2 separate regions of the Homo sapiens genome follow, and region 1 is linked to region 2. Evidence: fine-mapped expression QTL. A gene starts in region 2. The other region holds a variant in brackets. All regions are shown on one strand. Distances are from middle to middle.

Evidence for each region. PIP is the estimated chance that this variant, and not a neighbour inherited with it, causes the effect.
Region 1: its variant is fine-mapped to the expression of ALPK3 in whole blood (TOPMed, PIP above 0.99).

The regions. Positions count from the first base shown.
Region 1 is chr15:84,785,211-84,788,109 of GRCh38, forward strand. The region is part of intron 4 of ZNF592 (zinc finger protein 592); the gene reads left to right. Among named protein-coding and RNA genes, the nearest start is that of ALPK3, 31 kb to the right of the region's middle. The variant C/T (reference allele first, on the strand shown) is at 1,117.
Region 2 is chr15:84,816,041-84,818,939 of GRCh38, forward strand. It overlaps ALPK3 (alpha kinase 3), which reads left to right and starts at 1,316. Exons shown (of 14, transcript NM_020778.5): 1 at 1,316-1,555. The coding sequence starts at 1,413. RefSeq lists an enhancer at 414-944.

The DNA of each region.
Region 1 (2,899 bases), 31 kb before region 2:
CTGGCAGGTGTCAGCACAGTCTTAGCATGTGACCAAGGAACTTGGGGACAGAGATAGCTGAGTCACTGCCCCTGCACCTCAGTCTGTTCTAAGAACTTTGTCTTTTTTTTTTTTTTCTTGAGACGGAGTCTCACTCTGTCACCCAGGCTGGAGTGCACTGGTGGGATCTCAGTTCACTACAACCTCTGCCTCTGGGGTTCAAGTGATTCTTATGCCTCAGCCTCCCAAGTAGCTAGGACTCCAGGCATGTGCCACCACGCCTAGCTAATTTTTGTATTTTTAGTAGAGACAGGGTTTCACCATGTTGCCCAGGCTGTTCTTGAACTCCTGGCTTCAAGTGATCTGCCCACCTCAGCCTCCCAGAGTGCTGGGATTACAGGCGTGAGCCACTGTCCCCAGCCAAAGAACTGTGTCTTTAATAAGTTGTTGTTCTGCCCTGCAGTGACACAGCTGTTCTTGCAGAGTCCTTTTGTGGAAACTGCAGTAGGGCCAATGGCAGGGCTGGGATAGGAGGAAGGAGAGTGGACAGACATGTGGGGCCTGTGGCAGAGGTTTATGGAGCCTCCTTCTTTCAACTGCGTTCTCACCACTCCAGGAAAGCAACTGTGCTTGTCTGCTTGTTTTGATTCTTGGTTATGCTTGATGAGATTCATTTAAAAAAAAAAAAAAAGCCTTCTGCGCTGAGAATACCCTTTGGCACCTTCTGTGTCTATGTTATGTGTTAGTGGTTTCTCTGAAGAAAGAGGCCTCCAGAAGGTGGTTCTCTTCATGACATAGCCAGACCCACCCCTCATGGTGCTTCCCTAAGCTGGTGCTACAGAGGCCTGGGAGGAAAGTAAAACAGCTCTTTTTGCTTCAGTTCAGCCAGGGTTCTGTGCATGTGTTGGTAGCTGTTGAGCTTTGCATGTGTTCCCTGAGTGCCCACTGTGCATGGGCTGGGGGTCTATGCCAACCAGGGGATGCCGGCAGAAGGGAGTCTAACCTTCAGGAGCTTACAGTGGCCTAGCAAGGGCAGTGGTCACCACCCAAACAGCTACAGTATATGGCCAACTGAGAGTGGGGCTAAACCAAGGTTATAAACTTAGTTGCGCAGAGTGCCCCAGAGGGACTAATTCA[C/T]GATGACTCCATGCGTAAGGAAGATGCTGTGTGGAGGTGAAATTTAAGTTGGGCTTGCAAGGATGAGTTTGGAGGAGTAGGAGGGGCAAGGGTGTTTTGAGTATAGGGAGCAAAGGAATATGAGAGTGCAGAGTGGGTTTGAAGAAGAGGACATTGTTATGCATGAGGCTGGTCTTGGAAATATTAGGGTAGAGGTCAGAGGTTGAGTTTGGCGGGCCTGTAGGGCTTCTGCAGAGGACTCAGCCCCCCAAAGGGGCCAGAAGGTGCTATAGGATCCCACTGTGGCCTCTCATCTCCTCCTGCTCTGTTTCAGTTTGCATTTTTCTTCTGATGCGTCAGATGGGGTGTGGGCACTCTGGGTCTCTTCCCCTGGGGCTTCAGTGTTCTTGCTGCCCCAGCATGGTTGAGTTGGGCCAGGTTTACTTTATCTGAGTCAAGGGGCCATGAGGAGGCCCCATGGCAGTGGAGGTCTGATGCCTGGGCCTGGGATTTTTTCACACTGGTCCTTACGTATCTTTTTTTTTTTTTTTTTTTTTTTTTGTGAGACGGAGTCTTGCTTTGTTGCCCAGGATGGAGTGCAGTGGTGCGATCTCGGCCCACTGCAGCCTCTGCCTCCTGGGTTCAAGTGATTCTCCTGCCTCAGCTTCCTGAGTAGCTGCGACTACAGGTGTGCGCCACCATGCCTGGCTAATTTTTGTATTTTTAGTAGAGATGGAGTTTTGCCATGTTTGCCCAGGCCGGTCTTGAACTTCGGACCTCAAGTGATCCACCTGCCTCGGCCTCCCAAAGTGCTGGGATTACAGGCATGAGCCATCACACCCGCCTCCTTGTGCATCTTCTAAAATTTGAGTAGGCAGAGGTCTGGGTGTAGGATCCCAGGCTGGCATGGCACCTTTCTCATCTTACATCCTCTCTGTGTCATTCTGCCCTAGTGGGAGCTGGAGAAGAGCACCCGCCGACAGGAAGGGAAGGAGTGCACAGAAGGCTATCAGGCCTCTCTCAGCCAGCTCCAAATCCCTCACAAAATCTCATGCCACTCATTGTGGCTTCTGAGTCTCAGGGAAAGGGTGAGCCCTGAGCTATGGGATTAAAAACTAGGCTTGATGGCTGCTGGGCTTGGGTTTTCCACAGGACAGTATCTAGCTTCAGCCCATGTGTCCAGGGCAGGGGGTGGACAGATAGTTGGGCTCCACACCACAGCAGGGACTGTGGGAACAGCATCGGTTTGGGATTTCCATCTTCTTCCTGGGAGTCTGCCCCTGAATGGAGCATGCCTCCCTCTGCAGTGACCCAGGGAGTTCTTTCATCCTTCCTCTTGCTTTCCAAGCCACGCTGTTGGGGCAGGATGTCAGCCAGATGGATATTGTCATTCCACCCAACACAATTAATAACAGTCCCTTAGTATTACCTACTACAAGTTCATATTCAGATTTTTCCAGTTATGTCAAAAAATGTCTTTTTACAGTTGGGATTATTTTGAGTCAGGATCTGAACATGGGGCTATACATCACGTTTGTTTATGTTTCATAAATATCTCAGTCTGGAACAGTACCTCTTCCCACTCCATCCTAGTAGGCACCCTCTTTTCATGCCATTGACTTGTTGAAGAAATTGGGTCATGTGTTCTGAGCATTTTCCAGAACAATTCTGGGTTTAACTGATTGCTTCCTAAGTTTTCCAGAACTTTGAGTTTTACTGATTACTTCCTCATGCAGGGAATTTTTTCCTCCATATCCCATATTTTTTCCTGTAGACTGGAAGTAAGCAATAAAAACTTGATTAG
Region 2 (2,899 bases):
TGATGGCAGTCAGCTGAGGCCAGGAGTGGGATCATGTGGGAACAAGGTAGTTGCCATTGGAACCACACGGAGTAGGGGAAAGCCATTTCCAAAAGGAGTAGGGATGGGTGCAGCTTCGAAAACAGAAGGGTTGGACTCCTTTGCTCCCACTTTCTAACAATTACAGCCATTTAGCTTCAGGTACTTTCTGGATGCTCTCAGGAAAATAGGAGAAAGAAGGATGGATAAAAAAGTCTGTGGGCACTTCCGGCCGGGCGCGGTGGCTCACGCCTGTAATCCCAGCACTTTGGGAGGCCCAGGCGGGCGAATCACGAGGTCAGGAGATCGAGACCATCCTGGCTAACACGGTGAAACCCCGTCTCTACTAAAAAATACAAAGAAAAAAATTAGCCGGGCGTGGTGTGGGGCGCCTGTAGTCCCAGCTACTCGGGAGGCTGAGGCAGGAGAATGGCATGAACCCGGGAGGCGGAGGTTGCGGTGAGCCGAGATAGCGCCACTGCACTCCAGCCTGGGCGACAGAGCCAGACTCTGTCTCAAAAAAAAAAAAAGTCTGTGGGGACTTCCAATATTTAGACCAGGTTTCGGCAGTGCTTGGCACTAGTTCTTGGAAATTGTTGCATGATTTGATTATTTTTCTGGGTATCAGGACTCAGCCCATTTCCCCCTCTGGTGCTGAGAAATGGAGGCCGAAGGAGTGATCTAGAAGTGTTAATTGAGCCCCTAATCTATGCTAGTTACTGGGGGTGTTGGGGGAGACAGGAGAGAGATCCCACGGGGTTCCGGCCTCCCAGGGACTCAGGTCACTAATGGAGGTGGCTTGGCTTGTCTATGTGCTGGGCCAACAGCCACTGGCGAGGCAAGGCGAGGGTCAGTCACGGCTGGTGCCAGGAAGAGGGCTGGTTCTTTGGCTCCCTGGTCTCCCGCGGTCTAGCCCAAGCTGGCCAGCGGTTGACCTGGCTCCCCTGGCCCCGGCCAGGCCTCGTGGACCCCTCATATGCCACACGGGACATGAGCAGGCCGGCCGGGAGCCGGGTCCCGGGAGCTCCACGAAGGGGCCTGTCCTCCATGACCAGGACACCCGCTGCGCCTTCCTCCCGAGGCCTCCCGGGCCTCTCCAGACGCGGCGCTACTGCAGACACCAGGGCCGCCAAGGGAGCGGACTCGGAGCCGGCCCTGGGGCGGGCACATGGGCCCCGGCGCCCCCCGGCGTCTCCAAGCCGCGCTGCCCGGGTCGGGCCAGGCCAGGGGAGGGACAGCAGCAGGTGACGACGGCCCGGCCACCGGCTATAAATAGGGGCGCGCGTCAGCCGCGGGCGGGAGCGGCGGCGGCGGGCAGGGGCCCGGGGGCCGGGGCCTGGAGGACAGGCGAGGCAGCGGCGAGTGCGGGGCCGGCGGTCGGGGAGGGCGGTGCCATGGGGTCGCGGAGGGCCCCCAGCCGGGGCTGGGGCGCGGGTGGGCGGTCGGGGGCGGGGGGCGACGGTGAGGACGACGGCCCCGTGTGGATCCCCAGCCCAGCCAGCCGGAGCTACCTGCTCAGCGTGCGGCCCGAGACCAGGTAAGTGGCACCAAGGGGCAGGGCGGCGTCGGGCCGGCGATGCCCTGGGATCAGTCCCTGTGAGGGCGGCCTGGCCCCTGGAGGCCTGGGCTGGGCCTGCGCCCTCGAGCCCTCTCAGCCCCAAGGCCCAGGGCCTGGGGACATGGCCGGGCTGGAATGGCTTTCATAGCCCCTTGTGACCCCTCCTGATCCATGCGCCTCAGGCCTCTGGCAATTCGAGGCTCAAGAGAGGACAAAGGCTCCACTTTGGAGTGATTTCATGGGGTCTGAAGGCTTTCCTTATCTCCCCTGCCCCCTACCCTGCTACTCCCTGGCTTGGGATTCCACAGCTAGCGATAAGGAAAGCCAGAGTGGCTGAAATTCCTCCCTGGCAGGAAGGGAGGGGGAGAGCACTGGTGGGGACAGGGAGAGGGTGCTGGGGGGCTGCCCAGAGTAGGAGCTGCTTAGCTCAGGGTGGGGAGGTTCTCCAGGAAGAAATAAACCTTTGTAAATAAGGTTCCTCTACTGGGCCGAGGACTTGGGTCCTCCCCAGGACCTGAGTGGGGGCTGGTGAGATAGGGGGTGGGATGAGGTACTGTCTGGAGATGTTGGGAATTAAGGACTTGCAGCTCTGAGGGAGCCAAGTGCCCTGTCCAGTTTGGGGAAGTGAAATGCCAAGGGAGGTGTGGAACTGATGAGCCCTTCACTGGTCTTCCAAGAGTTCAAGAGGTGTGGAAGCTTTGTTTTAGCAGCTAGGCCACCCACAGATATAAAGACACAAAGACAATAGACAGGCATCCAGGAAATCAAAGGCACACAGGCACACGTGGACAGGCGCATTGCCATGGAGACAGACACTTCCTGCCCCCTGTGGGCAGCTCAGTTTCCCTTCACTTCTGGAGTCTGTTTTCCAAAGGGAAATGTGTTGAGATAGTGGTTGTTTCATAGCCTGAGAACTTGACTTGTGTATTATGCAGAAAACGGCCATTCCTCCAAGAGGCTGTCCAGAGACCTCTTGTTCTCCATTCCTAAAACAGCATAAAAACAGGCATCGAGGACATTCAGGAAAAGTCCTGGGCACTTCCTCGTGAATTGGCTGAGTCCTACTGACCTTGGAGTTGGGAAAGTTCAAATGTAACCGGAACCGGTTTCTGCATAAAACTCGTCAAATGGTGTCACATGTCTGGGGCAGGGCTGAGGACTGATGTTAGTGACTGAGTCAGACTCAACAAGGCCCCTGGCTGCCAGGAAAGAATACCCCTTTTTCTTACTCCTGGCTCTACAGATAAACCAGAATGAAATTTGGACATTTATTCCAGTCCTTAGAGAAGCTGACTCCCTTGTGGGAGCCTCACATTTGTCACA